Homo sapiens: one gene and its partners. The protein of the gene in region 3 interacts with the protein of the main gene of each other region in a biochemical or structural test. Each region holds a gene or a part of one and is shown on either strand. Other genes may lie near its edges.

The links.
Region 1: the proteins of UBE2L3 (region 3) and RNF111 form a complex in vitro, tested with the Homo sapiens proteins (one study listed by BioGRID).
Region 2: the proteins of UBE2L3 (region 3) and XIAP form a complex in vitro, tested with the Homo sapiens proteins (one study listed by BioGRID).

The regions. Positions count from the first base shown.
Region 1 is NC_000015.10:59,074,634-59,078,286, reverse strand, and holds part of RNF111 (E3 ubiquitin-protein ligase Arkadia), read right to left. Parts: intron 2,334-3,653; coding exon 2,072-2,333; intron 1-2,071. UniProt on the Homo sapiens protein: E3 ubiquitin-protein ligase. Required for mesoderm patterning during embryonic development. Acts as an enhancer of the transcriptional responses of the SMAD2/SMAD3 effectors, which are activated downstream of BMP.
Region 2 is NC_000023.11:123,901,419-123,905,071, reverse strand, and holds part of XIAP (E3 ubiquitin-protein ligase XIAP), read right to left. Parts: intron 1-3,653.
Region 3 is NC_000022.11:21,591,640-21,595,292, reverse strand, and holds part of UBE2L3 (ubiquitin-conjugating enzyme E2 L3), read right to left. Parts: intron 2,433-3,653; coding exon 2,337-2,432; intron 1-2,336. UniProt on the Homo sapiens protein: Ubiquitin-conjugating enzyme E2 that specifically acts with HECT-type and RBR family E3 ubiquitin-protein ligases.

The DNA of each region.
Region 1 (3,653 bases), on a different chromosome or scaffold from region 3:
AAGCAGAGAGAGACATATTCTTACTCCACAAGTATTGTTGTTATACATATAAATGTACTTATGAAACAGCAAACTATTCATCTGGATCCAAGTATCACAATTTATAGCCAATAGGAATTATTCCCATTTTACAAGTGCAAAGAATGTAAGGACAGAGAGATTAAATAACTTATCCAAAGTCACCAAGCTAATTAGTCAGAGCTGGGAGGTCAACTCGAATCTATCCAATTCTAAAGCTAGTGCTCTACTATGCCATATTGTCTTCCCCAGTTCATTCTGGATGAAAAAAGGTTTAAGAACCACATGTTTCACACGTGAACTAAAGCATACGGGAAATGTTTTTTAAAAGCACGGGCAAGTTGGGGAGAGAATACACACACTCCTTCAGGAAAAGAAGCCCAAAACAGAGTTATCAAAATGTCTCTAACAGAAAATAATACAATTTAAATTTCCTACCTTCATTCTCATTAACACACTCCTAATGAGGTGTGTAAATTGATGCAGCCCCTTGGAGAGAAAACTTAACAGTATTTATCTGAAAGTTTAGCCCTCTGACATAGCAATCACATTTCTAGGAAGTTAAACTATACATAAACTCAACCATAAACAACTTTAATGTCCATCAACAGAAGACTGATTTAATATACAATGGATATTATGGGGGTATTAAAAACCAATGAGCTAGATTTTTATGTGCTAATATGCAAAAATCAAAATATACTGTTAAATTTAAAAACAAAAAACAAGAAGTAGAATATGTTTGATTTCCCATTTTTAAAAGGTAAGACATATACCTATCTATGTGTACAAAGAAAATTTCTAAAAGTTTTTATAGAACAGTTACTACCTCTGATATATTAAGATTAGTAAGCTGTGCGAGGAAGCTTTTAAATTCTCATTTTATATGACTGCACAGTCTGAATGTTTTAGAATATAACAAATGAATCTAAAACATGTATTTATTAGGACATTTTGAAAGGAATGAACTTACTCATAAACTGCTTCAGTATATTATTTTTAAAGGGGAGGGGCAGAAAATTAAGCATATTGAATTTCAAATAAAAGATGATCAATCAAAAATGAATACCATCAAGTATTACAAAATAGGCCATGCATCACACTGGTGCTCATACAAAGAATTGGCCCATTGGTCAATGCTTTGTAAAAACTTGCTAAATGTTTTCCAATTTATACTTTAAATTTTAAGTTGCATTACTGAGAAGGTAAATAATATATCACCAGTTTCACTGTACAGATTCTGGGTTGATTCCAGCTGCGTCTGCACGATGCAGATTTTTTTAAATGACTGGAGTAGAAGAAAAAATCCAAGAAGATATGTAAGTGAAAATTACCACTTGCCATGTAATCAAAACAAAACACAAATTTCCTTGCTGACTTCCTGGTTCATTTCCAGCATGAATTTTTGGTGTTTATCAGCCAAGTGTTTATTAAGCTTTCATTTCATTATTAGCTTATGATCTAACAAAATAGTAAATATGTTACATAGCCTTAGAGTATTTATCATTTCTTGTGATATCTAACGAATTTCAATTTCTTTAGAAAAGGCATGGCTGGTTCTATTTTATTTTTATAGAAACGGGGTCTCACTATGTTGCCTAGGCTGGTCTCAAACTCCTGGCCTCAAGCCATCCTCCTGCCTTGGCCTCCCAAAGTGCTGGGATTACAGGAGTGAGCCATCATGCCCAACCATGGTTATATTTTAATTGCCTGCATCAAATGAATATAAAAATCCTTTTACAACTCCCAAAGCTTGCTGTTATGTCTCAGCTAACTGCTTGAGAATTCTTAAAAATTTACTTTACTGTGCCTAGAAATACTACTCAACTTTCACATTTCTTCAGCTATACTAAAGAACAAATCTAAATTCCTTAAAACTTCCATTCAATCCACCTCAATTACATAATACTAACATGGGAAAAAATATACCCTACTCTTAAGCCAAGTAAATACTAAAAATTTAAGAACTGGGATTAAAGGTTATTTCATAAGGAAGTACAAAATGCTTCATTGACATGACTCTAGATTTTGTGTCCACTAAGTATATACTTACAAGGGGGTGGCATGTAATGTCGACATGATGAGAGAGAGGGCTGTGGAGGGGGCTGGGGCTGGGGCTGCGCAACCATGCTTGATCCATAGCCATCTATTGATGATAAAGGTTGACTTGGGGCAGCAGCAGCGGCCTGATGGCCAAAGATTGCAGCTCGGGAGGAAGAAACAGGGCAGCAGGGGTCAAATGCAGATGCTCCATGAAAACTGCCACTTCCATGACTTCTGATACCACTGTTGCTCAGGTCCACTGGCAATGCCTGCTAGATAAAAAGGAAGTATATTTTATCTTTCTAAAGTTTGGTCAAATATTTCATGTTATATTATAAAAGTATTCCTAATATAACCAAAAAAACATAATCTTTAAATTAGTTTGAAACCAGGAAGATTCTTAGTATGAAGAACCAGTGAGCACCAACAAAATACTTGGTTATCTTGAATATAACAAGTGTATCCTGGATTGTGAAAACTGTAGTGGTTTTACAGTTAAACCAATTTTTAAAAATCAAGCATAAGATTTTATCACAAGATGAACAAAAGTTTAATATATTAAAATCTTTTTGTCTTATAACAAATACATCTTAGAAACTTTAAAAATCATACTTCTATATTCTCCTTTATCCCAACATTGTGACTAGTACTTTAGGACTCCTTGAGAAAACATACTATCACACTACTGAAAATATTAAGGTTCTAGGAAAAATCTTGTCTGCCCCAAGTTCCAAACTGTATAAAGCAAGAATTCAATTAAAGTGCTAATAAACAAATCTACATTATTCAAAATAACAATGGACATAAGATTTTTCAGACTAAATCATGAATTACCTTTGCCACTCAAAGCTTTCACTTGTTCAAAAACATAAGAATAAAAAAAGTTAAAGCACTGCTTCCTTTTATAGGCATATTTATTGCATTTTATAGGCACATTTAGTGCTTTGCAGATGTTCGGGGTTTTTTGTTTTATTTTTAATAAATTGAAGGTTTGTGGCGACACTGTGTCAAGCAAGTCTATCAGAGTTATTTTTCCAACAGCATGTGGAAACTCTGTGTCTGTGTCACATTTTGGTAATTCTCTTAATATTTACATTTTTCTCATTATTATTTTATCTGTTATGGTGATATTTGATGAGTAGTCATTGATGTTACTATTATAATTGCTTTAGGCACCAAGAACTGTGCCCATATAAGACAACAAATTTAACAGATAAACATGTGTGTCCTGACCAGATGTTTCCCCATTACCCTGCTCTCCTCTCTTTGGGCCTCCCTATTCCCTGAGACACAACAACATTGAAATTAGGCCAATTAATGGCCTCTGGTATTGAAGTGAAAGGAAGATTTGCACATCTCTCATTTTAAACCAAAACCGAGAAATGATTAAGCTTAGTGAGGAAGGCATGTCAAAAGCCCAGAGAGGCCAAAAGCTAGGCCTCTTGCACCAGTTAGCCAAGTCATGAATGCAAAGGAAAAATCCTTGAAAGAAACTGAAAGCACTCCAGTGAACACACAAATGATAAGAAACTGAAACACCCTTATTGCTGATCTAAAGAAAGTTTTAGTGATCTAGATGGAAGATCAAACCA
Region 2 (3,653 bases), on a different chromosome or scaffold from region 3:
CCCTCTTGGGCATAATAAAAACTATAGGCTCAAACATGGAATGCATCAGAGATAAGAAGATAAAGCACTTACCCTTAAGAAGCTTGGTCTAATGGGCAGGGCAGAAACCAGTCCCAAAATAGTGTAAAAAGCAAAATGCTCAGCCAGGCCTGGTGGCTCACGCCTGTAATCCCAGCACTTTGGGAGGCTGAGGCGGGCAGATCATTTGAGGTCAGGAGTTCAAGACTAGCCTGGCCAACATGGTGAAACCCCATCTCTACTAAAAATACACACAAAAAAAATTAGCTGGGTGTGGTGGCGCATGCCTGTAATCCCAGCTACTCGGGAGGCTGAGGCAGCAGAATCGCTTGAACCTGAGAGATAGAGGTTGCAGTGAGCTGAGATTGTGTGCCACTGCACTCCAGCCTGGGCGACAGAGCGAGACCCTGTCTCAAGAAAAACAAAACAAAACAAAATAAAACAAAACAAAACTCTACCAGCACCAGGAGTAGATAAGAAGGAGCTCCTAACTCTGCTGTGGGTGCGGGAGAAAACTTGAAAGAAGTGACTTCTGAGCTGAACCTTGAAACATGAGTTCACAAAGTAGATTCAGGGAGTTGGGGGTAGAGTGGGGAATGGGACTAGGTATACAGATAGAGAAAACGTACTCAAGGCAGAGGAAAAAATACAAGTAAAGAAACGGCACTATAAGCTGATTTATATTATAAGAAAGCATCAACACCAAAAAAAGTCAGAATGAAGTGTGTATTTCATGCCAAAAAAATCAAAAGGAGAACAAGTAATTTCCACATTACTTTTAGATGTAATGCTACAACGAGTTAAAAACAAACAAACAGGCTGGGCGCGGTGGCTCACGCCTATAATCCCAGCTCTCAGGGAGGCAGAGGCGGGAGGATAGCTTGAGCCCAGGAGTTCGAGACCTGCCTGAGCAATATAGTGAGACCCCGTTCTCCACAAAAAGGAAGAAACAAACAAACAAACAAAGCAACAACAATACTGACACCTAGAGTAGTCAAATTTATAGAGACAAAAAGTAAAATGGTAGTTGCCAGGGGTTGGGAAGAGAGGGAATGGGGAGTTGTTTAATGAACATGTTTTTATTATTATTATTATTTTTTAAAGATAGGGTCTTGCTCTGTATCCCAGGCTGGAGAGCAGTGGTGCAATCACAGCTCATTGCAGCCTTGAGCTCCTGGTCTCAAGCAATCCTCCTGCCTCAGCCTCCCAAGCAGCTGGAACTACAGGCGTGTGCCACCACGCCTGGCTGTTTAATGGATGTAGAGTTTCGGTTTTGCAAGATGAAGAGTTCTGGAGGTTGACTGTGCAACAATGTAAATGTACTTAACACTACGGAACCATACACTAAAAATGGTTAAGATGGTAAACTGTATGTGTATTTTATCACAATTTTTTAAAATCTAAAAAAAACAAAAAACAAAACAAAAAAAAAAACTGAAACAAACCCCAAAACACTGGACCAGAAGTCAGGAAATCTGAATTCTATTCCCAACTATCGGCGTGATCCTAGGCAACAGCCCATCTGTACTTCAGGTTCCCAATTAAGGTCATAAAAGTTATAAAATGGGCTGGGTGCAGTGGTTCATGCCTGTAATCCCAGCACTTTATGAGGCCGAGGCGGGCAGATCACCTGAGGTTGGAAGTTGGAGACCGGCCTGACCAACATGGAGAAACCCCGTCTCTACTAAAAATACAAAATTAACAGGGTGTGGTGGCACATGCCTATAATCCCAGCTACTCAGGAGGCTGAGGCAGGAGAATTGCTTGAACCCGGGAGGTGGAGGTTGCAGTGAGCCAAGATTGCACCATTGCATTCCAGCCTGGGCAACAAAAGTGAAACTCCGTCTCCAAAAAAAAAAAAAAAAAAAAAAAATTATAAAATAATCTTTAAGGTTCCTTTGGTTCTGATTGTTTGTGATACCATATCATCTCATTTTTTTCTATATTATTTCATCCTTGTATAAAGCCACTAACTTGAGATGGTGATATTCTGGGCATAGATCTTTTCCCCTCAGACCAGTAGTTTACCACTGGCAATTACTTCCCTCTTGGCTTAAAGGTAACTACTGGATTCTACATACTTCTCTACAGCGCCTTTCCCCTTCTCCTCCCCACAAAGCCCTCTTCTAGGTCAGAAGGTTACTGGCACATGAGCAATAAAGGCTAGATAACTTTTGATGTTATTTGCTAATATTTGTAATTATTTAAAACCTCTTCTAGAATAAACTGATGTTATTCATTTTACTATTAGAGCAGATTCATATGGAAAGACAGATAAGAAATGAATATGGGTTATTTGATTTTTATATTATATACAGTAATATATATACACATAAAGATTAAAATAAGTACTTTAGTACATATACTAAATAAAGGGCTTTATCTTACACTACATAATTTTTTCAAAGAAAGAAAAAAAGATACTGATTCGGTACTATTTTTACAAGACCTTTTACTAGGGCATTCTCTGTTACACAGCCATTGGCAAAAAAGTTTAGCACTAAATCTAGGATTTCTCAGTAAGTGACAATGTTATATTTTCTCTAATAACCCTCACCTGCTTCACTTCAGTTAGCCCCATCCTTATTTTATATAAAATTAAAAGATTCTTAGTGCCAGTCTTTCCTCATCAGCTTTTGGGAAGACAAATAGGCAGCAGTCCCAGCATGAGTAGAGAGCCTGTATCAATTACTTGCCTCTCAATTTAGTGAGACTGAGGAGAGTTCAAATGAATTCCAACCCTTAGGCTCTCCTTCCCACACCATCCTAGTTTGTAGTCTCAGTGATAATATGAGCGCCCATTGACTCCTGTTAGATAGAGAAAAGACACTCTCCCTAATGCACAGTCTCTTGATCTCTTCCTATTACAACCTGCTAAACCCTTCTGCTGCAGATACATTAAGGTTTGAAAACTAACAATTTATGGCCAAACAATTAAGCGCGTGTTTAAGATGCAGGAAAAAAATGACACAATTGCTTGTGTTTCTGTTATAGTAGAAAAATTCCAGCCCGGCCAACTTGGCGAAACCCTGTCTCTACTGAAAATACAAAAAATTAGCCGGGCGTGGTGGCACATGCCTGTAATTCCAGCTACTCGGGAGGGTGAGGCAGGAGAATCGCTTGAGCTGGGGAGGCGGAGGTTGCAGTGAGCCAAGATCGTGCCATTGCACTCCAGCCTGGGCGACAGAGTGAGACTCCGTCTTAAAACAAATAAAAAATTAAAAAAAGAAAGAAAGATGACAATTAAAGGGTTTATTTTACCACCACCAAGATAAGTGGAGCTTGTGTAAGTTTTAAATAAATGCATCTATAAGGAAAAAATTGGAAGCTTTCCATTGATTCTTACATCAATGAATATAATTTTAAATATCATTAATGTTCATACTGTTTCATAACTTATACGATTATCTGAATAGTGTTTCAAAAGCACTTGAAATATCTTAAAGATCAAAAGGATCTTAAATGCGTCAAAAATAAGTAAACGTTTAAGTTTTTTTAGCAGTAGGAGAATTCTCATCTTTTTGGAGGGAGGATGGTCAAGAGCTTAGAGAACTATTACAGGTAAAGTACCCAAAAGTGTACTCAGTTTGAAACTTCTTCTTTAACCTTCGATGTTGTTGGCAAGCACTACAGTG
Region 3 (3,653 bases):
CTTCATTGAAACATTCCTCATACAAACCCAGGGGCCCTGGAAGAAAGCAAGGGAGAGGACCGAGAAGAAGTGGTATACACAGGGACAAGAGCAGCCCTGGCTGTTGCTTACCGTCTCCAAGGTGAAACTTTGGCCTGGATAGCTCCCCAGAGCCTCAGCCCAAGCACACTTGGATTCTACCAGCCAGCCTCCACCTTTGCCCTAGTAAGATCTTAGCCCACTGCTCCATAGCCCCTGCCAGCGTGAAACCAGAGGGAGGCCTTTGCATGAGTTGGGGCAGAGCATGCCCAGCAGCAATCTACCCGTGGAGCTGGCTAGCAGGCTCTCAGGCCACTAAATTCTCAGGGCCAGACTGCCCAAGCCTTACCACTTAAAACCATTCCATTCATTTTTATCATTTTCCAAAGAGCCACAGATTAACTGTTCATTTCTTTGCTCAGTAGACTACACAATCTCAATTAGAAAAGGGACAAGAGGTCAGATGGTCCCGGCCATCTTCAGGTCCCTAGAGTAGGCAAGGGCTGCACTCACAGGCCAACCCCTCCCATGCAGAGGTGTCTCTGCCACCCACACCCTTTGCCCTGAGCCCTAACACCATCAAGCCTAAAGAAATCTAAAGGACTCATCTTCAAAATCAGACTGGAAGCTCCCAGATTTAAACATTCTGAGCATACTAAATCATTACAAAGCATATCTTTCCTTAGTTATCCAAATGATTATGGAAATAAACTACAAATCCAATAACTGCTGATCAAATTCAGGGACTTAAAAAAAAAAAAGCATGACCTTATAACCAGCATCAAGAAGAAAGCATCTACAGGAGGGAGCATGCTCCATGCTCACCTTATAACCAGCATCAAGAAGAAAGCATCTACAGGAGGAAGCATGCTCCATGCTCACCTTATAACCAGCATCAGGAAGAAAGCATCTACAGGGAGAAATCATCTACAGGAGGAAGCATCTACAGGAGGAAGCATGCTCCATGCTCATGACCTTATAACCAGCATCAGGAAGAAGCATCTACAGGAGGAAGCATGCTCCATGCTCTGCTTTGGCAAAGCAGCCAATCCATCCATGAGAACAAATTATATACAGGACAGCGGCAGGCACAGGGCAAGGGCCAGAGGCTCAGATGTGCAAAGTGGGAATGAAAAGGAACAGAGAAGGTGAGTGGATGAGGAAGAACAGGAAAGGAGGGCACTCACGCAGGACAAGGGTGTGAGCTGAGGTAGCTGAAGGCTACACAATGACCAAGTGAGGCCGCCTGGTGGACAGATGGTGCAGCTTCCGGGGAGAAGGCAGGAATGGAGACAGGTGTGGGAATCCTTCATGTCTGGCATAATCATCTATGATGCCGAAAGTAGTAGGGTCCCGAGACAAAACAGAACAGGAGAACAGCAGGAGACCAACAAGAGTCATGTTTAAGAGTGAGGAGGAAGGAGTGGCAGAACAGGAGCGAGTGGCAGGCTGGTCACAGGACTGGGGGCTGGAATGCTGCCCGTGCTCCAAAAGCTCAGGAGGCAAGCAAGGGCCATGATGCCAGCACTGCCGAGCTAGAGGTGTGACAACAGTGGGGGCAGCCTGTGGGCTGGGTGTGACGTGGTTTCAGGAGAGTGAGAGGAAGGGGGATTGCAAACTGGAGTTAATTATAAGACAAGCCTCTTGAAGGGGAGGGGATCAAAGGATGCAGAAAAGAGTAGGCACTAAGAGGGTGCTAAGGAAAGCCATCGTTAGGAGGGCCTTGAGCCCATCAGAAGGCAGAAGACTGTGAGATGGGGGAGCTGGGCTGTGGGGGCAGACACTGGAGGCATAAGCCCCAGAAAAGACATGGGGTGAGGGGAACATGTGGGCAATTAGGAAAAGGGACTTGAGACAAATGGAAGGCACAGGTTGGAGGGGACCAGGAATAAAGCCCGAAATACAGGTATCCAAAGGGTTAGAGACATGAATGCAAAACCAAGAGAGAAAGCAAAATATCTAGAGGGGAATGCTTGTCCCCTCCTGAGGAGCTCAGAGAAGAAGGTCCTGCTGATCCATCAGGCCAGGCGCAGGGAAGTCAGGAAAGAGCAGGAGCACAGACACACTCCTTTTCTCTGTGTCTACAGATCTGCAAAGCTCAGGACTCCCTGAATTTGACAAAACGAGTGCCAAGATGTGACTCTACTCAGGACCCAAGGCTACACTCCCTACCTTATCACCCTAGAGCGACAGCCACTTCTGTGCATCTGCTGGCTGCCTAGACTAAGAGCCTACTAAGGAGCAGAAAAACAAGCCCAACAGCACACACATCACCTTAAAGAATAATCTGGTAGGAAGTGGAAGTGTTCAATACTCACAGGAACAATAAGCCCTTGCCAAGTCAATAAATTAGCTTCATCAACCTGGATGTTACGGAAGTTTTTCATCCCACATTTGCGGATTTCTTCAAGCTCCTGTTGATTGACAAAGCATAAAGGGGTGTCAAATAGGGGAAAGCACCACATATTAAGATCCCTCCTGATGCCCTCAAATTAAACCAAGTGCCAAAAATGCTAATGACAAAATTGGACAGTGAGGACTAAACTGTGCTTGGAGTGGTTAAGGAGGCATGGAGCTGCCATGGCGGTCCCCTCTGCAAGGTTGTTGCCTCTCCCCATGCCCCAGACCAAGACAAGCCCCCACCTCAGTGAACCCCCCTGAATAGGACAGGGGGAACCATGCTTCTGCAGACGTACCACCTCCTCTTTGGGTTGGTCACCATGGCTGTTTAAATCCCTCAGCACCCTGCATAGGGCAGACATGTGGCAGGAGCTATCCTGAGGTGCTCTACACCTGATACCTTCCAATCAAGATTCATTAAGCACTGATTATGCACCGGATGCTGAGAAGCTAAAGATGAATAAAACTGGGGACTGGGAACAAACCAGACACAAACGCATATCCAGTTTTCTACCCAGTGCTATAAGTGTGATTTCAGAAGGACTCCACCTCAACATGGGCACACAGCAAAGAGAACCATCCAGTCTGGGACTGGGGTGGGAGTGGGGGGGTGGGGACGGGAAACCTTCACTGAGCCTGTTTCCTCAGCTGCAAAACAGACCCAGAGTGCAGAAAAGGAAAGGGAAGCCATGTTGTGGGCAACAGGACCCCTTGCAAATATGTGGGGTTATTGTTGTATAAACAGTCAATGCAGCAAGTGCCATTTCACCCAGAAAGCACAACTTTACGACTTCAGGGTCCTGCCTGAGATGTCTTCAGAACTGTCTGTCACCTGTTTTTCAACTGTGCACCAGCCTGACATTTCCCATTGCCTCCAACATCTCAGTGAATGCCTGGCAGGCGCTATAACCCAAACCACCCAGCAATGCCCTCCTGCCAGAACACCAGCCTCGCCAACATTCCTCCACTCTGACACATGAAGTGCCACTCTACCCGCCTCAGCCCGGCCTCCCATCCAGTGGCACAAAAGCCGCCTCCACACCTGTCAGGCACCTTCTCTTCTGCAGCCCGAGCACCATCCAGCTGAGCCCTGCCTCCTTCGCCAGGCTGCTTCCTCTGGCCCAGCTCCAGCACCCTCCAGAACCTCCTTACGTGGTACTTCAACTCACAGTGGCTTGGGGGCTCCCTATCAGCCCCCACATCAAGCCCAAAAGATCCTTGCACCTCATACTTCC